Regions from separate parts of the Homo sapiens genome. Here all the other regions are linked to region 1. The links come from fine-mapping of genetic effects on gene expression. A gene starts in region 1. Each other region holds a variant in brackets. All regions are shown on one strand. Distances are from middle to middle.

Region 1 (8,167 bases):
CTCGGGTGGCTGAGGCAGGAGAATCACTTGAACCCGGGAGGCAGAGGTTGCAGTGAGCTGAGATCTCACCACTGCACTCCAGCCTGGCGACAGAGTGAGACTCCATATCAAAAAAAAAAAAAAAGACGTGAATCAGGGCTTTGTTGGCCACTGTGCAGTCCAAGGCCTTGGGGACCAAGACTGACCTGGGCTCTGTTTGACCCCCTTCCCTCCCTTTGTCCCCATTGGGATGCAGGACTTTCCATGGAGAGGACCCCCAAGCCCAGCCATCTTGCTTACTTACTATATGTGGGCAGTCACGAGCATCAATCAGCACCTGATAGTAAGTGTGAGTTTTGCCTTTCACCTCCTTGGAGCCATGGCCAGCAGGGTTCTCTGCTCTATGGGGTGGGAGAAGGAGGCCAAGATCACCCCAGGAGAAATGGAAGCTGTGGCTGACTCAGCTCCCTACTCCTCCTCACCTAAACAGGCTGGTCTCTGATCTAAAGGGGCTTTAGCACCAGCTGGACACCTGCTCTGCAGCACCTCAGCTCAGCTGCTCCTCAGTTGGGGCAAATAATAGAGCATGGAAGACCATGGTATGGAGCCATCATCTGACCGTGTGGATACCTCTTAAAAGAAGGGGGCCATGTTGAGAAAATCAAATTGCCACCTCAGTCCCCAGGGCCCAGAGTACTCTTGTCTTCTTATATCCCAGGGACTGTCTGTGATCACTTAATGGGGCTGAACCTTTTCTGTTTTAATGTATTCTAGGGATGATGTGAGATTGAGGGAAAGACTCCAGCTGAACATCAAGAAATCAAGAAGACTTGTCCCCCAAATGCCCTCTGGGATACTCATAATGAAAATTAGGAATGGCTTAGGAAAGCATTCTGAGGAGGCCTAAAGGGACTCTCTGACTTAGACTATCCCTGGCACTCAGCACTTTTGTCTCCATGGGTCTTAGTCCCAGAGAAGTACTCTGGGGATGTTTCCAAGGCCTAGGAGGACGCTGTCTTCACCCCTAGTACCCCAATTACATATGTCTGCCATCTCCTCCTGAGGATACTGTGAGGCACAACCACAGGGAAACTTACTTTTCTGGAGCTGCAGAAGCCACATCCCGGTCATACAGTCTGGCCTGCCAGGGAAACAGGACGACACCTCGGTAGCCAAAAATGCTATGAAGGAAAAGCTGGAAGGAAAGAGGGGCCTCAGTGAGTCTGCAGTCCAGCAAATCCATCCAGGTGGGCCCCAGACCACAAAGCAACACAGGTGGAGGCAACTCCAGCACAAGGTCTTGCTACCTCTTCCCTTGAAGTCTGTGATCAACCAGACCAATGCTGGAACACTCTTATTTCTTCTTTACCTGGCTGACTCTACTCATCCTTTAGGTAAAAGCTTAGGCCTCCAGGAAGCCTTCCCTGACCTCCCTTCCACTTAGCACAATGTACAGCTATTGGCCATTTGCAAATCGTTCTTTTCTAGACTAGAAACTCCACAATAGCAGGAATCATGTCTACTTTGCTTTCTGATTTAACCCTAATGCACAATGCCTAGTCCATTGTAGGCACACAGAAAAATAAAATGTTGAACAAACAAAAAGTCTTCCTTACCTACAATATCCTAGAAGGGCCTAAATCTATCCCAGTGGACCCAGAACAAAGCTGATATAGAAAAAGAACCACACATCCAGAGTTTACCACACTGAAGTCAATTTTATTACGGCAAAGCATCAAAGGTATACTTTTCTGAAAGCTCCCTCCACGGCTTCCCACCATCCACTATGTTAGAGAAATCTTCAGCAACTTGGCTAAACCTCACTATAGTCCACACCATCCCTGTCCACATTAACTTGGAAAGAGAACCCACTGACACATTAAGTGCATTCAAATCCAGGAGAACAGAAACCCTATCTATAAAAATTTGATTCTGGGCTGGGTGCGGTGGCTCACGCCAGTAATCCCAGGACTTTGGGAGGCCAAGGCAGGTGGATCACCTGAGGTCGGGAGCTCGAGACCAGCCTGACCAACATGGAGAAACCGCATCTCCACTAAAAGTACAAAATTAGCCAAGTGTGGTGGCGCATGCTTGTAATCCCAGCTACTAGGGAGGCTGAGGTAGGAGAACTGCTTAAACCCAGGAGGTGGAGCTTGCAGTGAGCCGAGACCATGCCATTGCACTCCAGCCTGGGCAACAAGACTGAAACTCCGTCTCACAAAAAATAAATAAATAAAATAAATAAATAAAATAAAAAATGAATACAAATTTGATTCTGGAATGGCACCAAACATCAAGGTGGAATGAATGGAACACCATACCATGCAGGCCTGTGACCTAATCTGACTTTTTTCAGAAGCAGAGCACTCTATGAAAATGAAAGATGACCCAGCCCAATACTCACCTGCCCGGTCTCATATTTTCCATTCTGTTTTGGCACCTCAAACACACCAACTGTCTCCAACACTTTGCCCTCTGGTCGGTTTCTGAGTAGGAAGGAAAAGAACAAGCAACAGAAAAGCTGAGAAGGTAATGGTAGTTATCCATAAGAAAAAGCTCCTAGGATACTGAGGGGCCAGGGCGATGACAGCAGAGAAGGGTTTGGGGTAGTGGGACCAGCTGGAGCAGGAAAGGCTTTCCTCCTCCTTGGTGAAAACCTCCACAGTCTCCCAGTGTTAGATGTGACCGCTCCCATACTACTGTCTTCTCTCTTCACTGGGCATTCTTCATATCATGCCCTCACACTCTGCTCAAATGTACCCCTGCCCTTGTTTCTTCCCTAACCCACCCTCCTGACCTCCCACAGCACTTTAACTGTCTTGCTCACTTTTTCAATTTTTTTAGAAGGGGAGTATCTTTTTTTCTTCTTTTCTTACATTTTCTATATCACAAGTCATCAAACAATATCCTGCTCCCTTTACATTTCAGTTGTGTCCATGTCTTATCTTTATTAAATACTGTAAATTCCCTGGGAGCAATGCCTGAGTCTGATTAGCTGGTACTGCCCCCTCAGAGCCTAGTGTACAAGAGGTGCTCAAAAAATATTTGTCCTGTATTATAATTCCATGTCCATCTCCCCCTCTAACCTGTAGCCCTTACATTGCCCTTGAAAAGCTTAAACATCTCTAGATTTCCTACGGCACATCGCTCTCTCAATACCGTTTTTGTTCATATTCTCACAGGGGTCTTAAATTGCAAATAGCTATCATCTCTCCCCAATGTTCAGTGTCTAATATCAGCCACTAAAATGTCAGTCACCACTCTGAACAGGGCTGCTCTTTCTAGGGGCCCTTCAAATAAAGGCTGTTTTTACTGTTTTGAAGATGTGAACTTTATGCTTCCTCCCACTGATCCACCAGCCCATTTGATCCGCCTGTCCCATCCGTGGAAACAGTTTCCACACCATCCCCATGGCCTCAAACCCCCTTCCCCAAGTCACAGATAGAAAATCGATCTCCCCAAAGTCACTTGGAAACCTGGGGCCTACGAGGGTCCACACCCAAGAGTCTCGTTTCCCACCTCTAGCATCTTTCTGAGGCAGACCTTCACCAAATCCAAAGGCTGAGGGTTCAAGCCAATGCCCTAGGGCTGAATTAAAAAGCTTCCCTCTGACATCGGTGCTGGGGACCCCAGCCGGGGAAGTAGGATTCACTTGGGGAGGGTAACCTGTTCCCCCCCAGGGCCAGCCCTGTACAACCAGGGCTCTGGGCCGCGCTGGCTTCCCTGCTCCTGGCACATGTCCCAGACAGCGCAGGTCGGCTCCCTGCTCGGGACCCTCTCCCGGGTCAAACTCCAGTCACCCTCAGCAGGCCCGGGCCCCTGGCCTCCGCACTGGCTAGGAACACGCTCTCTGGGCTCCAGGCCCAGTTCCTCGCGCCCCCTGGCTCCGTCCCTCACCGGGACGAGAGGTGCCTCCGCGTCGTCGTGGTCGACGCTGGCGAGAAGGCTCCAGCTCCGGCCGCCGCACAGAGCGGCCTTGGCCACCGGGCCCCAGTCAGCGACCGGGACCACCAGCGGCTGCCCACGGCCAGGGCCCGCCGGGCTGTACAGGCTGCCATGTCCCGCCCGAGCGCCCGCCCGGCTGCTGACACAGAGCCCGACCCGCGGCCGGGCGGCGTTCCGCCCCAGTCCCACACTGCCCCGCGCGGCGTCCCGGCCCTCTTGGCCCGCCTGGTCCCACCCCGGAGCTCAGAGCAACTTCCGGTGCGCTTAGCGTTACTTCCGGCGCGCGGCGGGCGGAAGTCCGGGTTGGGGTCACCTGACCGGAGAGCCGGCTAGATATGGCGTCCTCTTTGCTTGCGGGCGAGCGATTGGTGCGTGCTTTGGGCCCCGGCGGGGAGCTGGAGCCAGAGCGGCTACCCCGAAAGCTGCGGGCCGAGCTTGAGGCCGCGCTGGGGAAGAAGCACAAGGGCGGTGATAGCTCCAGTGGCCCCCAACGCTTGGTTTCTTTCCGTCTCATCCGGGATCTGCACCAGCATCTGAGAGAAAGGGGTGAGCCCCAGTCTCCAGTCCGGGGTCCCCTCCTTGTGTCCAGATCGATTCCCTCCTGAGGTCTTTTCCCATCATTCCCCTTCTTCTACGGAGCACTCATCTAGACAAGTCAAGAGTCACTCCATAAATCCCAGGGCCACCCACTTTCTTAACTCCCATGGGAATTTCTCGTGGATGACAAATTTGCTTGTGCAGTTTCTGCTCTTTTGAGAGCCCCCTCTTCACTTCCAGGCACACCTAGGCCCAATTCACCCTTGAGAAAGTCTAGGTTTTTACCAAATACAAATATCACAGGTTTTGTCTCTTCTTTTTCTCCACTTTAGGAATCAGCTTAGCATAGTGAGCTTGTAGGAATCCGGATTTCTTTCCACCTCAAAAGCAAGAGTGGTGAAATCTGATACTTTGTTTTGTTTGTTTGTTTTTTTAATATAGGATGGCAAAAGCTGTGTTGAAAGATCTGGCCTGAGAGTAGCATGTGAGTTCCAGTCCTAGCTCTGTCACTAATCCTTTGAAGGAGTCATTTCTCCTCGCTGGGCCTCAGTTCCCTTATGTGTAAAGGGAAGGAACAGGACAAACTAGCACATAAGGTATTTTGCCAGAAGTAACATAGACCAGCCAGAAGTGCAAAGGGTAGACTGCTCAATTATTAGAACTAGAAAGGACCTTAGAAAGAGATTGCCTAGTATTAGTGTCCTCTGAGCATTTAGCATCACTATGACCTAAACTTATTTAGGGAAGAGCTGTTGTGGCCACAGAACTGATCTAACCCAAAGGCACAAGTAAATGGCTTACTTGTTAGTTATAACACTGGCAGGATAATTGAGAGCTGACAGCTAAAGTCACCTGCGCAGCACTGGGAGATACCTACATGGAATTATCCAAAATTCTTTTCAATTGAAAATGATCCTGGAAATGGATTAATGTAGAGATGGCCCTGTTTTATTTTGGTAGAAAGAAGGGCTACACCCCTCTTGATCTTAACCCTTCAACCTCAGCTCGTGGATCATTGTGTTTGTGAAACCTTTTCTTCTCAGATTCCAAACTATACCTCCATGAGCTCCTAGAAGGCAGTGAAATCTATCTCCCAGAGGTTGTGAAGCCTCCACGGGTATGTAAGGGATATGTTTGTGAGAGTGGTTATTGACTGAGTTGGGCTTATCCATGATACACTGAACTTATAAATCAACTTTTAGGCTTGAAAAATTGTTTTTGAAATCTTTGGGATCTGGGGGAGCCAGATATTGTCCTCCCCATCAGCTGTTTGGAAAATTGAGATCAAAAAAAAAAAAAACAGTTTCAAAGCACTGGAGTTACGACTAGTATGTGGGTCTCCTGATACCTTTAGCAGTGCTTTACCCCTGGAACCAATGATTGTGATGTGCTTTCTAACAAGCTGGGAATATCATTCTTCTCATTTGATTTTTCTGCTTCAGAACCCAGAACTAGTTGCCCGGCTGGAGAAGATTAAGATACAGCTGGCCAATGAGGAATATAAACGGATCACCCGCAACGTCACTTGTCAGGTAAGGACATGCTCTTCAGTACGTGGTCTAGGTAGCCCCTCAGAGTAGGGCCCTGCAGTGGAAGAAGATACAGAGTTTAGAAAAAACATGGAAACTTGGTTTCTATACTGTTCAGGGACCATAGGAAGTCTGCATACAAACAACACAGTTCCCATCTCATTCACTGAGACTCTGGGCTGAGATGGTGACCAAGTTTTAAACGTCATAGAAGTGGGAGTTAGCCGGGCACGGCGCTCATGCCTGTAATCCTAGCACTTTGGGAGGCTGAGGTAGGTGGATCACTTGAGGTCGGGAGTTCGTGACCAGCCTGGCCAACATGGTGAAACCCCGTCTTTACAAAAAATACAAAACTTAGCCTGGCGTGGTGGCGGGCACCTGTAATCCCAGCTACTCGAGAGGCTGAGGCAGGAGAATCACTTGAACCCAGGAGGCGGAGGCAGAGGCTGCTGTGAGCCAACACTGCACCATTGCACTCCAGCCTGAGCAACAAGAGCAAGACTCCATCTCAAAATAAATAAATAAATAAATAAATAAGTGGGAATGAATCTTGGAGGCTTTTTTTCTTCTTCTTTTTTTTTTTTGAGATGGAGTCTCACTCTGTCACCCAGGCTGGAGGGCAGTGGCAGGATCTCTGCTCACTGCGGCCTCCGCCTTCCAGGTTTAAGTGATTCTTATGCCTCAGCCTCCCAAGTAGCTGGGATTACAGGCATGCACCACCACGCCAGGCTAATTTTTTGTATTTTTAGTAGAGACCACGTTGGCCAGGCTGGTCTTGAACTCCCAGCCTCAAGGTGATCCTCCTGCCTCGGCCTCCCAAAGTGCTGGGATTACAAGGTGAGCCACTGTGCCCAGCCATTCGAGCATTTCTTCTGACAGGGCTCCCTACTACTCTATGGCATGCTCCTACCCTGGAACAGGAGAGTAGATGGGTACTGGCAGCCTATGTCCTCTCTCCGAAATGCCTGCTCTGTAGTCCAGAAAAGAGTCAAAATGGTTCCAGACAAAAGAATCCATGGGGAGGGCAGAGTTAATATGTTGGGGAATAGAGAGGGCTGAGCCAGACTGTCAATGGATGCTCTCTGAGCTGCTTCTATTCTGAATCATCTTCTTTTTCTTTTTCCCAGGATACAAGACATGGTGGGACTCTCAGCGACCTGGGAAAGCAAGGTGAGGTACTAGGAGATCAGGCTTCTAAAACCTTTTCCTGAGATGGGTCATGACACTCAGGCTTGTTGTTTGACTGAAACCCAGTTGGTGGGGGAGCCATGAGATAAGAGCACCTCCTAGAGAATGTTGAACTAAAGGTGCCCTCTCTGGCTCCTCCCCAAAGTGAGATCATTGAAGGCTCTGGTCATCACCATCTTCAATTTCATTGTCACGGTGGTTGCTGCCTTCGTCTGCACTTACCTTGGAAGCCAATATATCTTCACAGAAATGGCCTCGGTGAGTAGGCACTGGGCAGGGCAGGGTGCCCCTGGTGGGGGTGTTAGTGGGTAAGGGAGGACGTATGTGAAAGTGCCTTGCACAGGTTAGGTATTGAACAGATATTTATGCCATTAATAAGGGGAGCATTAGAGCTTTCCAGCAGTCACGGGAGGTTAGGTAATAACCCCAGGAGAAGCCACATTCTCTTTTCTTCCCCTCCCCCAACTTAGAGGGTGGTTGGGGGGCTCTCCATCCTCATTAAAGTTGCTGGGGTACAGAGCTGGTTGTTGGCCTGCATCCCTTAAGCCTGGTTCTCCCCATCTCCAGCGGGTGCTAGCTGCATTGATCGTCGCCTCTGTGGTGGGTCTGGCCGAGCTGTATGTCATGGTGCGGGCAATGGAAGGCGAGCTGGGAGAACTGTAACTGGTGCTTCATCATCAAGTCTAGAGAAGACTTTGGGGGCTTCAGGCTCCAATTGGCAGTCACCGACTCAGTCAACCCATCAGACTTTTTGTATTCAGCTCCAGTTAGTCAGAAGACCAGCCCAGGCCAGCTGCTGTTTCTGTGGGGAGCCCTAATCTTCTGTGAATTTCCAAAGGGAGCATTGGAGGAGATTGAGATAACACATCTTTAAAACAGAAAGAACTGGTCTTGGTCTATCAGTACCTCTTCCTGAATCTGGTACCCATCTGCCTTCTCCAGTTCATTCTAAACACTGCTGGGACTAGGGTTTTTCCATCAGGAGCAAA
Region 2 (8,167 bases), 31 kb after region 1:
GCCGAGGTTCAGACGTGGCTGCAGCAGATCGGTTTCTCCAAGTACTGCGAGAGCTTCCGGGTAGAGTCGCGTGGGATACGCCTCCCCCGAGTCAGAGCGGGCGCCCTGTGCACAGGGACTGCGTTCCCTCCCCGCCTCGCAATCCCGCGGCGCCAGGGTCGCTTTTGGGGGCGGGGAGCCTGTACGCAGCCACCGTTAGGGTCACTCGGCTCTGATCTAGGTCCCATCCGCCTCCTCCACGCCATCTCCAGTTCCTTCCCTTGCATCTTGTGCTCGAGGTCCAAGGGCGGAGTAGCGAAGCCCTTCCTGACACCCGACTCCTCCCCCAGGAGCAGCAGGTGGATGGCGACCTGCTTCTGCGGCTCACGGAGGAGGAACTCCAGACCGACCTGGGCATGAAATCGGGCATCACCCGCAAGAGGTACGGAGCCTCCTGCCCGCCGGACCCCAGCTAGGTCTAAATAAGCTCCCCCTCCGCCCACAGCCCGTCCGAGTCTGGACCTCAGCGTCTTCTCCTCCGTGGGGTGCAGGTTCTTTAGGGAGCTCACGGAGCTCAAGACCTTCGCCAACTATTCTACGTGCGACCGCAGCAACCTGGCGGACTGGCTGGGCAGCCTGGACCCGCGCTTCCGCCAGTACACCTACGGCCTGGTCAGCTGCGGCCTGGACCGCTCCCTGCTGCACCGCGTGTCTGAGCAGCAGCTGCTGGAAGACTGCGGCATCCACCTGGGCGTGCACCGCGCCCGCATCCTCACGGCGGCCAGAGGTCAGCCCGCTCACCCGGGACCCCGCCCCAGCCCCAGCCCCAGCCACGGCCCTGGAATGGTGAGGGGAGACACGGGGTGGAGCCTTCCAGCCTCGCCGTGGATTGATTGAGCACAAACGTGGGTCACACTGGGCTCTGAGGATGTAAAGATGAATACGTTGCACTTTACCTCAAGAAGTTCCCAGTCTGAGGTGGGTAGGCGGTGGGAGGAAGGAGGCTATTAAACAGGCAAGCGGCCCCGGCAGGAAGCTACCCAGGTCTCCAGTGGGAGCACAGAGGAAGCCCAGCCCACCCCATCCACCCAGGTCTAGATTTCAGAGAGGACAGGATGCCTGACCATGTCTTGAGAGGTGCACTGGCGGGGAGGGGTGGCAACAGGAAGGGCAGCCCAGGCAGAGGCAGCGGCCTATGGAGAGTCCATGCAGTGGGGTGTAGGCGGGAAGGGTGTGCGTATGTGTGTTATCCTATTGGCCAACAGCTTACAAAATTTGGGTCTAGAGGTGGTTTAGAGTGAATTCTAGGCCTCTAGCCACCCTCCTTATTTACTAATTTATTTTTACTTACTAATTTACTACTTAGCTAATCTTTATTGTCAATTACAAGGTACTCTGTTTGGTTTTTAAGATATTATCCCATCAGTCTCTATATTGATTCTATGCAATGAGTGTTCAGTTTTTAAAATCAACCTTAAAGAACTCTTGAAAGAATAAAAAGAGGAGTAAGTGTCCAGTTTGAGGGCCGGGCACCGTGGCTCATGCCTGTAATTCTAGGACTTTGGGAGGCCAAGGCAGGCGGATCGCTCAAGTCCAGGAGTTTGAGACCAACCTGGGCAACATGGTGAAAGCCCATCTCCACTAAAAGCACAAAAAAATACAAAAAATTAGCTAGGTGTGGTGGCGCATACCTGTAGTCCCAGCTACTTGGGAGGCTGAGGTGGGAGGATCACCTGAGCCCAGGAAGTTAAGGCCGCAGTGAACTGTGATCAGGTCACTACACTCCATCCAGCCTAGGCAGCAGGAGTGAGACCCTATCTCAAAAAAGAAAAAAAGTATCAGTTTGAGGAGTTTTGAAAGACATCTGTGTGACCCCCCACCCCCACCATCATCATTAAAGATATAGAATATTTCCATCATGGGTGTTCCTTTTAAAGATAATGAAACTAACATTTAAAGAATTCAAATACATTTCCCACAGTCATAAAAGTCATTAGATGGCAAAACTGGGACTTGAGCCCTTGTCTTTCTGCTTCATAAACAAACAAATGTTGTCTATGAGGGTTATGTCTAAATATTATAAGAAGATGAATTCTTTTCATTTTATCCTTTCATTCAGCAATTACAGACTAAGCACCCACAAGACACAAGGGACTGAGCTTTGGCTGCATTCTTATGCTTCAACCAAAGCAGGTTGGCTTTTATTATTTTTACATTGCAGCTCCCATTAAAACTTCAAGATTTCATTTTTATTATAATTAATTAATTTGAGACAAGGTCTCATTCTGTCACCTAGGCTGGAGTGCAGTGGCGCAATCACAACCCACTGAAGCCTCAACCTCCCGGGCTCAAGTGATTCTCCCACCTCACCTCCCAAGTAGCTGGGACCACAGGTGCGCAACACCACACCCAGCTAATTTTTTTATTTTTTGTGGAGACAGGGTTTCACTATGTTGCCCAGGCTGTTCTCAAACTCCTGGCCTCAAGCAATCTTCCCAACTTAGCCTCCCAAAGTGTTGAGATTACGGGCGTGGGCCACCGCACCCAGCGCAAGATTTCATTTTTAAACAACAGGAAAATCCTAGGGCAAAAATAGCTTACAAAAAATAGTTTGTATAGTGAGTAGGGAGCCATGCATAGTTTTTAAGTGGGAGGAATGACATGCTCAGATTTGGATTTTAGAAAGATGTTCTGGTAGCTGTGGCAAATGGACTACACTGGGCAATTCTTTTCTTTTCTTTTCTTTTCTTTTTTTTTTTTTTTAGTCAGAGTCTCACTCTGTCGCCCAGGCTAGAGTGCGGTGGTGCATTCTTGGCTCACTGCAACCTCTGCCTCCTGGGTTCAAGTGATTCTCGTGCCTCAGCCTCCCAAGTAGCTAGATTACAGACATGTGCCACCATGCCTGGATAATTTTTTGTAAAGACAGGGTTTCACCATATTGGCCAGGCTGGTCTCGAACTCCTGGCCTCAAGTGATCCACCCACCTTGGCCCCCCACAGTGCTGGGATTACAGGTGTGGGCCACTGCCCTGGCCTAGACTGGGCAATTCTAGCTGGGTTTGGGGAGGCCATTGAGGAGGCTGGCATTGGAAACCTGAGCCAGGGAAGGGCCCGGAGGCTGGAGTCCAGTATGTTTAGTAGGTAGAATCCTCAGAATGCGGTGCCTGGCGCTTAGTACTGAGCGTGGCTCCAGAGGAGCAGAGTGCTGTCTGTTTTACTCACTGCTGAATCTCAAGCACTGAAGACAGTCCTGGCACACAGCAAGTGCTTAGGATGTATTTGTTGAATAAATTAAATGGGAGGCAGGAGTTGAGGCTGATACCCAGGTGTCTGGCTTTGGTGGGAAATAGGGAAGAAGGAATGAGGGGGAGATTTGGGGTGTGTTGAATTTGGAGTGATTGTGGGCAGCTGGCTGTTCAGGTCTGGAGTTCCAGAGAGAGGTCAGGGCTGGAAGTGCATGCATATCAATGTCCCTAGAACACAGTGCCTGCCTCCTAAGAGGAACCCAACAATAACATGACCTTCCTCCTGGAGGCCCCATTTCTCCTTTTTGGGGCAGGCCACCCTCCCCAGGCTGGGCTGAGAGGGCTTGGTGGACTGGGGACTAAGTCCACAAGGGATGATATACCTGACAGTGAGTGATGCGGAGGGGCCACCTTCACCATGCTGCCTATTGCCCACTTCAGAAATGCTACACTCCCCGCTGCCCTGTACTGGTGGCAAACCCAGTGGGGACACTCCAGATGTCTTCATCAGCTACCGCCGGAACTCAGGTTCCCAGCTGGCCAGGTGAGGAGGGGCGGGCGGGCAGCGACGGGGCGTGGGGACAAGGCTGTGGCACTGACACAGGACTTACTTGCAGTCTCCTGAAGGTGCACCTGCAGCTGCATGGCTTCAGTGTCTTCATTGATGTGGAGAAGCTGGAAGCAGGCAAGTTCGAGGACAAACTCATCCAGAGTGTCATGGGTGCCCGCAACTTTGTGTTGGTGCTATCACCTGGAGCACTGGACAAGTGCATGCAAGACCATGACTGCAAGGATTGGGTGCATAAGGTAGGTGCCTGCCTATGCTTCTGCGGTCCCAGCATTGGCCTGTGGTCCAGAAGATAGGGTCGTCTTCTATTCCTTCTTGTCTGCACATCCCGGCACACTTAGCCCTGAAGCACCTCCTTGGCCCAGCTGGAAGTCAGGAACCACAGCTCTGACTGTAATAGGACTTTAGCAAACCACAAGGGACAAGAGACTAGGCTTTGGCTCTCTGAGCCTCAGTTTTCTTTTTCTTTTTTTTTTTTTTTTGTTTTTGAGGTAGAGTCTCGCTCTGTCACTCAGGCTGGAGTGCAATGGCGTGATCTTGGCTCACTGCAAGCTCCACCTCCCGGGTTCACACCATTCTCCTCCCTCAGCCTCCCGAGTAGCTGGGACTACAGGTGCCCGCCACCACG[G/C]CTGGCTAATTTTTTTGTATTTTTAGTAGAGACAGGGTTTCACCGTGTTAGCCAGGATGTGAGCCTCAGTTTTCTTTTCTGCAAAATGGGGTAACTTACCTGTTCCACTCACCTTATAGAACTGTTGTGAGGATCAGAGAGACATAAAAATGCTTTGAAAAATAAATTCCATGAGAGACAGGAGAGCATAGCGACAGGCAGAATGGAATAGTTGTTGAGAGCTCAAAACTGAGAGTTTGAATCCTGGCTCTGGCCTTGGGCAAGTTACTTAACCCCGATAAGCTTCATATTTATTTCTGGAAAGAGGGTATAATAATAGTATCTAACTCCCTAGAACATTGTTATAAGGACTAAAAAAGCCAAAATTTGTGAAGTGCTTAGCAGAATGGCTGGCACATAGTAACTGCTCAATAATGGTAGCAATTATTATTATTAATATAATTATTATAACTACTATATCTGTTTAATTCATCATTGTATTTTCAGTGCCTGACGCATTGTAGGAACTTATTGAATACTAACAGAATGCATTGATGGATAGCTCCATATTGCATCTTCAGGTTATTAATCATTAATCGGTCAGTAGGAATTGGAGTTGGGGCTGAGGGATGCAGTAGTCATCTAAGAGACAGGATGAGACAAGCAGTCAGCTCAGAGACAAGAATATGCCCAGAGGGCTGGGCACAGTGGTTCACACCCGTAATCCCAGCACTTTGGGAGGCTGAGGCAGGAGGATCACTTGAGGTCAGGAGTTCGAGACCAGCCTGGGCAACATGGTGAAACCTTGTCTCTACTAAAAAAATACAAAAATTAGCCAGGCATGGTGGCGCACACCTGTAATCCCAGCTACTCAGGAGACTGAGGCAGGGGAATCGCTTGGGCCCAGAAGACGGAGATCACACCACTGCACTCCAGCTTGGGCAACAGAGTGGGACCCTGTCTCAAAATGACTAGATCGCATACAAGTTGGTGTAAATGCTGAGCCAGGTAAGCAAACATCTTGCTTGCCACAGGGGTTTGGAGAAGGGAGAGAGCATCAAGGTGTCAACGAAAAGAGTCAGACTCTATGAGCGACCATGGCCTGTGACACAGCCCTCAGGAGACCCTGAGAACACGTGCCCAAGGTGATCAGGGCACAGTTTGGTTTTATACATTTTTGGGAGACACGAGACATCAATCAATACATTTAAGATGTACATTGGTTTGGTTCAGAAAGGCAGGACAGCTCAAAGCAGGGGCTTCCAGGCTATAGGTAAATTTTAAATTTTTCCAGTTGATAATTAATTGAGTTTATCTGAAGACCTGGGATCAATAGAAAGGGAATGTTTAGGTTAAGATAAAGGGTTGTGGAGACCAAGTTTTATTGTGCAGAGGAAGTTCTCAGGGCAGACTTCAGAGGGAGTAGGTTATAAAATGTTTCTTATCAGACTTATAAGGGTGCCTGGCTCTTTGTTGATTATCTCCTGAGTCCGGAAAGAAAAAGAAAAAAATGGGGGGAAGGGGATTCTCTATAGAATGTGGCCTTTTCCCACAAGAGACAAACTTGTGGAGCAATTTCAAGATATGGCAGGGAAATATATTTGGGGTTAAAATATTTTTATTTCCTCCCTTATTATGTGATGTTATGCTAGAGTCAGGTTAGAAAGCAGACCACGCTATATAGGGTTAAAATTAAAACCTCCTCCGATAAGACTTTATGGTTTGTAGGGCATGACTCCCTAGGCTCCTTAGGTAGGAATTTGGGCAAGATAAAAAAAAAAAAAATCAGAGTTTAGTCCTCAAAGGACTGGAATAATCAGGGAAGACTTCATGGAGGAAGCAGGTCTTGAGAAGAATCTTAAGAATCTGGGTAAGTGGAATAGAAGGCATCCCAGGCCAGGGTAACAGCATGAGCAAAGGAATAAAGGTAGGGAGGAGAACAGTGCTGAAAGCCCACATACATCTTGGTACTGCTTTCTCCATATCACAGATGAAGAAACTGAGGCTCAGAAAAGTAGAATAATGTTCCCCTGGCTGCACTACTAGTGTAGAAATCAGAAAAGCTAGGCTTCAAATTCCATCTATCTGACTCCAAAGCTCATCACTTTCCCAAGATCCACACTGCATTCTATGGCACAGCTCTGAGGGGGTGTGAGGGGAGGTGATGGGGTAGGGCTGGATTCGGTTGACACCAGAGATGATTGTATCTCTTCACAACTCCACATCCAGTGATGTCATGTTGGTAGCTTGTCATCAGCCATGGTGGGAGTATTTACACCAAGGAAATTGGCAACCACTACAAATCAAAGTTTTGTTAGTTTGGTTGATTGGCTGGTTGGGTTTTCTTCCCCCATGAATAGCTAGTTACTATAAAGTTAGCAGCACACCACTGGCTGGATAAGAACCATGGAAACCAGGTAAAGCAGTGTCTAAAGGCAGGAGAAGACCTGTGCTTAAAGCACTGGAAATCAAGGAGCCCATGAAGGAGAAGATGCCAGGGCGGTGGGTCTTAGGATGAAGGCTCTGACACTGGAATGCAGTCCACATGGAGTGTGGAGTCAAGCCCCAGAGGCCATGTAGGAGGGGCTGAGTACTAGGCCTGGTTTGGGGAGGGGCACTGGGGCAGTTGAGCATCCAGGAAGAACATGGCTGATAACCCAGAGCACGTGGCAGGCAGCCTTTTGAGAGAAAGAAAAGAGTGTCTGTGAGCTCCATGAGACTTCAGACCTTGCCTCATTCATCTGTGTCCCTGGTGCCTAAAACCATGCATGGTACAAAGGAGGCTCTATGCAATTGCACCAAAAAAAAAAAAAAAAAAAAAGAGAGAGAGAGAGAGGCTGAGGCTGTAGAGGAGTTTATAGAACAATTGAATCAATGATTAAGCAGACAAGTGATACTGATGAAGCTGAGATGCCATGCCTGGGAGAGCCATACATATCTAGTAGATTTACCAGGTTAGAGGACTTGACTCCGTTTTTTTTTTTTTTTTTCCAGTAGAGATAGGGTTTCGCTATGTCACCCAGGCTGGTCCCGAACTCCTGAGCTCAAGCCTGGAGTTCAGTGCCTGCCTCGGCTCCCCAAAGTTCTGGGATTAGAGGCATGAGCCACCGTGCCCAGCCAGAGGACTTGACTCTAATTGTTTTCGTTCTCAACCAGCTAGGTGATCCTGAACAAACCATTATCCCTTTCTTTTATTTATTTAATTATTTTTTTTTTTTTGAGGCACAGTCTTGCTCTATCACCAGGTTGGAGTGCAGTGGTGAGATCTTGGTCGGCTCACTGCAACCTCCGCCTCCCGGGTTCAAGTGATTCCCCTGCCTCAGCCTCCTGAGTAGCTGGGACTACAGGCACACGCCACCATATCCAGCTAATTTATATATATATATTTTTAGTAGAGACGGGGTTTCACCATCTTGGCCAAGATGGTCTCGATCTCCTGACCTCGTGATCCGCCCGCCTTGGCCTCCCAAAGTGCTGGGATTACAGACATGAGCCACCACACACGGCCGCCATTATCCCTTTCTTGGCCAGCCTCTGAATCTGTGCGATGAATAATTTGTACTGTCTTTGGTTTTGTATAATTCTGGATGAAACAAATTTCTAAAAATTTCCAAATAAATTGCTGCAGGCTCAGGATTCATTCCAATGCTCAGCAGAAAGGCAGCAGGGCTTGGCTGAAACAGCCTGGACTTGGACTCTCGAGGCTTGAGTCAGAGGACCGGCCCCTCGTGGGCTGGGCGTGTGTGTGGCTTAGGAGGAAATCCCTTCC
Region 3 (8,167 bases), 40 kb after region 1:
TGGTCCCAGCTACTTGGGAGGCTGAGGTGGGAGGATGGCTTGAGCCCAGGAGGTTGAGGCTGCAGTGAGCCTTGATGGTGCCACTGCCCTCCAGCCTGGGCAAAAAGTGAGATCCTGTTCCCCTGCCCCCCGCCAAAAAAAAAAAAGAAAGAAAGAAAAGAGAAAACAGAGACTTTGAGAACCTATTATTTTTGCCTCAGGTCGTAGAGCCTGTGTCAGAGACTCAGTGCAAACCCCGATTTGATGATTCCAGAGTGCAGCCCTAACTGCTGTGCTATGTTTTCTCATTCATTCATTCATCCATCTATTAAATATTTAGCAAGGGCTAACTATAAGGGCTTTGTGAAAGATGCTGAGATATAAGGTCAGTGAAAAATAGATATGATCCCTCCTCATGTCTGGCAGAGAAGACAAATACTGAGTAATTTACCCATTAATTAATTAAAATTTGCAACTATAATATGTTCTGCAGAGCCTATAATAGGGGAACTGACTTGGTCAGGGCAGTGGGAGACAACTGCCCTGTGTAAGAGTTGATTGAGCTCAGATCAGAAAAATGAATGGGCATTATCAAGGGGGAAGGACAAGGAAGCTTATTTTGTGTGTCTGGGAGGACAGGGCAGGGGTAGAGTTTGAGAAGTGGACTGTGGCCAACCACATAGGGTCTCACAGGCCACATGAAGGAGTTTGGACTTTATTCTAAGACCATGCAAAGTCTTGAAGAATTTTAAGTAGGGGGTGACAGGACCTAATTTGTCAGATGTGCATTTTGCAAATATTAGCTACATGAAAGGGCAATGTGGAGAGTGAATTAGAGAAGACAAGCGTGGATGAGGAAAGACCTGGTGGGGGCTTAAAGATAATGGGGATTGGAAGAGGGTGGTAGTGGGGTGGAGGTAGGGAAAAATAGTGGATTTGAGAAATAAGTAAGGAGTACAATTGGCAGGGCGCATGATGGATCAACCTGTACGCAGGAGTGTGATGTTTTTCTTCTGACACCAAATTGTTTGGGGTTTTTCCCACACTAACCACTAATTCTCCAGCTTGCCAACACCAACTGGGTATCCCGCAATTCAATTCAATTCTGAAATGTCAGTCACGAGGCCCAGGCCCCCAGGCTGCCACATTTCTGTTTGATTTGGCTACAAATTCGGGGGTGCCCATGACACCCCGAGATTCAATTTGCCAGAATGACTCACAGAACTCAGGAAAGCACTTTACTTACTATTAGTTGTTTATTATGTCAACCTTAAATAATGAGATTCAGAAAATAAGACTAAGTATAGAGTTTCTTTGAGTGCAAAGTTTGAGAATAGCCACCCAGTAAGCATTGACTCCAAAGGCATGGGGTGAGCATTCCAAACTGGAGAAGTTAAGGTTTCACTTCCACAGGCAAAGAGAGAGGAATTTTAGCAGGATTACAACATTTTCCATACAAGACCAGTGCGTATGTTACAGTGCTTTGATTGGTTATAGATTGCTACATTCCAAGGAAGATGACTTTATTACCCCCTGAGAAAGGGTGGTGATCTAAGTGGGGATCTAAGGGAGTCTTATCTCTGGTGCCATTTGGTCTTCCTAAGTAATTACAGAAAAAAAAAAAATAGGTGGAAGTTGCAGCTGCATGCCCCATGACTCAGGCTGCAGAGACCAATTCCTGTCAAGGCTCAGAATAACTTAAAGTTCCAAGAGCTTTAGGTTTGATTTAACAAAGCTTGAATAATAGTAATAAATAATATTATTAATCTCAAAATCCTGGGCTCAAGTGATCCTCCTGCCTCAGCCTCCCAAAGTGTTGGGATTACAGGCGTGACCCACCATGCCCAGCTGAATTATTTAATTTCACAGTTATAAAGGACACAGCTCAAGAATAGCCAAATGGAAGAGATACATAGGATCTCTACGTATGGAGGGTGGAGGTGTGGATGCCATGCCTTCTACCACCTTCCCAGCACCTACACCTGTTTATCAACCTGGAGGCTCTTCAAAACCCCTTGTTTGGGGGTTTTTATGGAGGTTCCATTATGTAGGCATGATTGATTAAATCATTGGCCATTGGTGATTGAACTCAATCTCCAGCACCTCTCTGGAGGCTGGGAGGTGGGGCTGAAAGTTCCAATCCTCTAGTCATGCCCTGGTCTCCCTGGTGACCAGCCCTCTTCCTGAAACTATCTAGGCTACCCCCATAGCACCCCCCGGGCCCCCAGTGGGGAATCATCTCTTTAGCATACAAAGACACTCATCACTCAAGAGATTCCAAGGGTTTTAGCAGCTCTGTGCCAGGAACTCTGGGCAAAGGAAAAATATTTATTTTTTATTACACTACAAGGGTTAAGGTAGACATCAAGGTGGACATCAGGACTGGTGTCCTGCCCTGGGCCCAGCCTCGGGCCAGTGGGCCTCCCAGCACCTGCCTGGCTACAAGGGTCCCTAGATGGGTACAGGGGTATCTTCCTCCTTTCCTTTCTTTCTCCAGGAGATTGTGACTGCTTTAAGCTGCGGCAAGAACATTGTGCCCATCATTGATGGCTTCGAGTGGCCTGAGCCCCAGGTCCTGCCTGAGGACATGCAGGCTGTGCTTACTTTCAACGGTATCAAGTGAGCCCCAGGGCCCTGGGACCAGGGGGGTAGGGTACAAATCACCATGACAGGCAGAGTGTGGGCAAACAGCTGACTAGCAGCTCCCTCTGCCCAGCTGTCTGAACCACATTGGCTCCTGTGCCCACAGGTGGTCCCACGAATACCAGGAGGCCACCATTGAGAAGATCATCCGCTTCCTGCAGGGCCGCTCCTCCCGGGACTCATCTGCAGGCTCTGACACCAGTTTGGAGGGTGCTGCACCCATGGGTCCAACCTAACCAGTCCCCAGTTCCCCAGCCCTGCTGTGACTTCCATTTCCATCGTCCTTTCTGAAGGAACAGCTCCTGAAACCAGTCTCCCTGGGCTGAGACAACCTGGGCTCTTCTTAGGAAATGGCTCTCCCTCCCCCTGTCCCCCACCCTCATGGCCCACCTCCAACCCACTTTCCTCAGTATCTGGAGAGGGAAGGGAAGTCAGGCTTGGGCACGGGAGGTTAGAACTCCCCCAGGCCCTGCCATTGGGTTGTCTGTCTCCGTCATGGGGAGGGTCCCTGCTCAGTTCTGGAGACACTGGAGTTGGGGTGGGGGTGGTTCTGCATTCCCTTCTCCTGCTGATAGCAGTCAGCTTGAGGAGGATGA[C/A]GGAAGGCAGCCTCAGACAGGAATTAAGGCAATGCCCAGGCGGGCCTGGGCACTGTATTCTGAGCAAGGGCCTGGGCCCAGGAGCCAGCCAGGGATGAGTGCCATCATGGCTCTCCACTCAGACTGTGCCTGGCCCCTGCACTTACAACTTCCTGCCGCTCTGTGGCCTTGCCCTGTAATCACTCAGTGCCCTTAGCTAGCCTGACTAAGTCCCAGATCCCCTACAGCTTCCTTCGGTGTGGTATCTTTTGCCACATCCAGGGCGAGGGTTGAGGCAAACCAGCCCTCCCTCTGACTTCCTTGTCACTGCAGCCAGCTTTGCTGCACTTGCTGGTGCACAGGAGCCTCCTGTTTGGGCCTGGGTCTGGGCATGGGGAGGCCGTGCCTCAAAGCCCACCCTACCCCATGCCTTGGTGCTGTGCCTCAGGCTCCTTCCTGGTCTGGCCCAGCTGGCTTCCCCAGCCCCTCAGCCATCCAGGGCTACCCACTGCTTACTCAGGGACCAGGCAGCCCCCATGGCAGTAAAAGCAGCCTAGACAGAACCTGCAGCTCTGTGGAAAGAGGCAAAGTCCTGAAAAGGCAAAGGGTTGTCACTTAGGGCAGCTTCTCCAACTTTAACATGCATCCAAGTCACCTGGGAATGTTGTTAAAATCAGGAGATCTGGGGTGGGGCCTAGGACTCTGCATTTCTTACAGATTCCCAGGTGAGCTGATGCTGGTGGTTAAGGGTAGCAAATCTCTAAAGCACGAAGCCCTCACAAATCTTTGCCATTTCCCAAACACTCCGCTCCATGGTCTCCAGTCATCAGAGCAACTCTACCTGGTATTATCATCCCCATTTTACAGATAATGACACTGAGGCTCAGAAAGGTTGAGGATAAGCCCACTTTCCTGTCATTAGTGGCAGCCCCAGATCCAGACCTAGGCCTCCTGGCACCCAGTCCACTGGCAGTGGAATTGCTTTCCTGAGAATCATTCTGAGGCTGGGCTATTGCTTCTCCCTTGCTTCAAAGAATCTAGCAGCGGGGGATAGGATTTTGCAACAAAAAGCTGACCCAGAGGCCATACAGAGCAGGAATATCCCATTGCCCCCTCCTCCACTGGGTTCAGAGGGTAAGAAAGCACCCTCCAATAAACCCAGGCTCCAGGCCGTGGGGGCTGCTGAAGGCTCTTTCCCCGCAAGGGCCAGGTGTTGACACCTTAAAGCTGGCTGCGCCCCCAGCCCCACTCTTGGCTGTGCTGGCCAGGTGACTCCTAGTTCTTGGCCACATCATCAGAAAGTCAAAGGTCTCACTCCAGGTTTGGGGCTCCTTCCTTCCACTCCCCTCCCTGCCAGAGTCTGTCTTGGCCAGTGCCAGCCTCGATGCTTTGGTTTTGACCCCACCTGATCCTCCTTTCCTCATGCAGCACAAGTGCTCACCGGGGCCAGAGCCAGGGCATGGATATGACAAGCAGGGCAGCCTGGACACTGCCCTCACAGGACAGCGCCAATAACAATACAGTGTCTGAGTATCTCCAGGGGATGATTTCTGGCTCTTTGTCTCCAATCAGTCCCACTCCCTCCTGAGGTCCCCAAGGGCAGTATTCAGAGAGGTTTCCTGCGTTTTATTTCTATTTGGTATACCCTCCACTGTTGTCCACTGCCCTGTGTGGCCTTCTGGTTGACCTCTGCCCGATCTTCTGTCTCTCTGAGGGAATCAGAGTCCAGCATCCAGCCCCAGCTGGAACAGCTGAAGTCACAAGCCTCCTCTAAGCCAAGGCCAGTGTGTTCAGAGGTGACTGCCACCCATACTAGGACAAACACAGCTCAGATCACCAGGTCAAGCACCTAGGCCTGGCTTCTCCTGAGACAGAGGACTCAGAAGTGGCCTTTCCTCCAAAGCCTGCTCAGACACAGGTCTGTAGGGCCAGGGTGTTCTGCTTGGCTGGGCTGCAGCTGCTACCCCTCGGTTGGGGCTGAGTCAGCCAGATCCTCCCCCTACTTCTCCCCAAGGGCCAAGAACTGCTCAGGGACATTAAAGGTCAAAAGTCCAGCCACACTCATTCATCCTTTCCCCAGGCCCATGAAGAGAGGCATCTCATTGTAGAATGTATGAGGAAGTGGGAAGTATCTCAGAGAATCAGCTAAGTTTCCTAACTTGTCCATCCAAATGTGATCACCACGATTCAACAATTTGGGGCATTGCTGATCTAGCCGTTCCTAGTGGGGCTTGCTCAAGGTTGCACAGCGAGTCAGTAGAAGCCCTGGCTGGCCCCACTTGGTACCAATCCACCAGGCAGCTCAGGGCTCCTGCCCAGCCCAGCAGCTTCTGTTGTCTAACGTATGGCAGGCAGACTGGGAGCAGGAAAACAGAGGGCCCCAAAGCCCAAGGCACCAGAAGGTTTGTTTCAGTTTGCTGAAGCTGATTTGTAATGATTGGCACTCTTCAGCCAGGGGAGTGGGTAGGCCATAGCCAAGGATCGATTCCCCAACCACAGCAAAGGCAACACTCTTCCTCCAGAGATCACCAAGCCCCTCTTACCTCCCTCCCTCCTTCCCAAGGCTGGCACTAACCAGGTACCACATTCATTGTTAAGGAATGGCTGATGACTGCTACACGTGTTGGGAACCTGGTTGGGGCTGTGCAGTTTGGGCTGGAAGGAGAGATGCCAGCCCTCGTGCTGCCTCTGGTCCCTGAAGTGTCACCTCTCTCAGGACCTCTCCTCTGGCCTGTGGGGTTATAAGTGATGGATAGCAGAAAGGGAGAACTGACTCCTGTCCCAAATAGCTCCTCTGCCACCTGTCCTGCAGTGGGCCTGTGTGGGTTATGATTCTAGATCCTAGACAGAGGCTGGGTCAGCTGTGGATGGGGTGGTGCCTTGGTCTCTCTTGACTACCTCGTCCAAAGAGAGCACTGCCCTTAGACAAGAGTTGCTTGTCCTGCTGTGGGCTGGGCTTCCAGCTGCAGACCTCCAGTTGCTTGGTGTTCACTTTGCTCCTCTTGCCCTCTGTCTTCTGGTCCAGGCAGATCAGGGGCTCTGGGGAAACTGCTGGAACTCGAGGTGAGGATCAGCCTTTTCCAGCATCCTGTGAGAGACCAGAGAGAGAGTTTGGATTTCATGTGGGGAACCCTCAAGGCCTGTCTGGAGAAGTGACACAGGATTTACTGGGGTGGGCTGGTCCAGGTAGCTCTCCTGAACCTCCTCCTTCCCCAAGCTGAGAAGCTGAGAGCTGGAGGACAATATCCAGGGACATGGCTCTGGAAAATAACTTTTTTTTTTTTAAGAGACAGGGTCTTGCTCTGTTGTCCAGGCTGGAGGGCAGTGACATAATCATAGCTCACTGTACCCTTGAACTCCTGGGCTCAAGTGATCCTCCTGCCTCAGCCTCCTTAGTAGCTGGGACTACCAGTGCATACCACCATGCCTGGGTGATTTTTTAAATTTTTTATACAGACAAGGTCTTGCTATGTTGCCCAGGCTGATCTTGAATTCCCGGGCTCAAGTGGTCCTCCTGCCTCAGCCTCCCACAGGATCGGGATTACAGGCAAGAGCCTCCACGCCCGGCCATGAAATATAATTCTTAATATCATACAGGAAAAAGTCAGCGGGTCAAGCTAGCCTGTGGCCCAGCCACAACTAGCTGACAAAGCTTCCTGGCCTTCCCTTTAACACAGTTCTGCTGCCATAGTTCCATCTATAAAATGGGAATGGAGGGAAATAGGGGAACTGGGAGAGAGAACACAGCCTTGCCAAGCAGCAATGTTAGCCTGATCCTTCCTCCACCTAGCTCGCCATCTCGCCCTTGGAAAATGGCTCCTGGAGGATTAGGCAGCCATCTGCAAGGAGAGGGGCAACCTGGGACAAGACACCCAGAGGGTAAGGATTCCAGGAATGAAGCTGCCATTTCTGGTTGGGAGGAGAAGAGGAAACTTTTAAGAGAAAGGGCTCCATTATGAGCATGGGTTCAGGGCCCTGCATTACCCAATCAGAACAGCCGGGATGAGCAGGAGGCCAGCTCCCAGGAGGAAGGGGAACCCCTTCATAAAGTTCAGAGTGGCTGGGTAGAGTGAGTTGAAGATGCCGGAGGCCGTCAGCATGGCCAGGCTATTCACACAGGCCACAGCAGAAAAGAGAGCACCTGTGAAGAAATAAATACCATACTCTGGAGTCCGAAAGGGCCATATTCCAACTCTGGCACCACCACCTCACAGCTGTGTGACCGGGAGTAGTCACTTAACCTATGTCTCCCCTTCCTCACCAGTAAATCCTGCTACATCATGTACTGTGACAAGGATTCAGTAAGGTCATATGTGGACAGTAGCTGGCACAGAGGGGCTACTAAACAAATGGCTGCTATTAAATCCACATTAAAAGTACATGTGATCTGACAGAACCCAGCACATAAAAGAAAAAAAAAGTACATGTGATATTGTCTGATGAAAGCTTGATGGAAATGGCTTTTTTCTGGTTTATCCTCTTTGGAATCATCTCCTGTTTGGGATTAACTGCTGGTCTGATCAGTTCCAATATTCATAGCGGTGTCACCACTGAATAGCTTCTTATCCTTTGGGTTCCTGTTCCTCCTTCTGCTAAATAAGGATAATACCTATTTCCTAGATTGTGAGCAACATTAAGTTCACATGGAAATCACCCATCACTGGGCCTGGTCCCCTGGAAGTAGCTAGTTAGTAAGGGCTGTTCTTTTCTCCTGTTTCTCTTGACATCTCTGGGCACAGAGAAAGTGCTGGGAAAAAAAGTTTAGGTGAATGAATGAAGACACATGGATTCTGGGGACACCAGAACCCACAGTGGGCTCTGTATGGCACCAGAGTCTCTGTCATCATCAGATCCTCATTCCAGGACAGATGGAAAAAGATGAATGTTTCCAGACTGGGGCATAAAGACCCAGAGGCTGGAGAAGCTGTTCTTTATAGATATACCAGGAGAACCCACAGTTTACAAAATGT

Which allele goes with the higher level. Alleles are on the strand shown, and positions count from the first base shown. SD is a standard deviation of normalised expression in the study named.
For the expression in prefrontal cortex of the gene that starts at base 4,116 in region 1, G is the low allele of the variant in region 2 and C is the other (moderate effect, 0.60 SD a copy in BrainSeq).
For the expression in breast of the gene that starts at base 4,116 in region 1, allele A in region 3 goes with a lower level than allele C (small effect, 0.20 SD a copy in GTEx).

The links.
Region 2: its variant is fine-mapped to the expression of POLDIP2 in prefrontal cortex (BrainSeq, PIP 0.91).
Region 3: its variant is fine-mapped to the expression of POLDIP2 in breast (GTEx, PIP 0.92).

The regions. Positions count from the first base shown.
Region 1 is chr17:28,353,412-28,361,578 of GRCh38, forward strand. It overlaps POLDIP2 (DNA polymerase delta interacting protein 2), which reads right to left and starts at 4,116. Exons shown (of 11, transcript NM_015584.5): 1 at 3,877-4,116; 2 at 2,384-2,465; 3 at 1,077-1,174; 4 at 284-380. The coding sequence starts at 4,037. It overlaps VMA12 (vacuolar ATPase assembly factor VMA12), which reads left to right and starts at 4,236. Exons shown (of 6, transcript NM_152464.3): 1 at 4,236-4,470; 2 at 5,505-5,578; 3 at 5,904-5,993; 4 at 7,118-7,160; 5 at 7,324-7,436; 6 at 7,746-8,167. The coding sequence starts at 4,260. The coding sequence ends at 7,841. It overlaps MIR4723 (microRNA 4723), which reads left to right and starts at 7,243; the gene lies at 7,243-7,323. RefSeq lists enhancers at 3,516-4,281, 4,394-4,493 and a silencer at 3,814-4,203.
Region 2 is chr17:28,384,510-28,392,676 of GRCh38, forward strand. SARM1 (sterile alpha and TIR motif containing 1) reads left to right here. Exons shown (of 9, transcript NM_015077.4): 3 at 1-60; 4 at 330-421; 5 at 531-766; 6 at 3,665-3,767; 7 at 3,841-4,030. Among named protein-coding and RNA genes, the nearest start is that of SARM1, 17 kb to the left of the region's middle. RefSeq lists an enhancer at 438-507. The variant G/C (reference allele first, on the strand shown) is at 4,420.
Region 3 is chr17:28,393,429-28,401,595 of GRCh38, forward strand. SARM1 (sterile alpha and TIR motif containing 1) reads left to right here. Exons shown (of 9, transcript NM_015077.4): 8 at 2,477-2,598; 9 at 2,729-8,167. The coding sequence ends at 2,858. It overlaps SLC46A1 (solute carrier family 46 member 1), which reads right to left. Exons shown (of 5, transcript NM_080669.6): 4 at 7,182-7,338; 5 at 1,214-6,285. The coding sequence ends at 6,228. Among named protein-coding and RNA genes, the nearest start is that of SLC46A1, 8.7 kb to the right of the region's middle. RefSeq lists enhancers at 2,253-2,936, 3,620-4,303, 5,068-5,157. The variant C/A (reference allele first, on the strand shown) is at 3,219.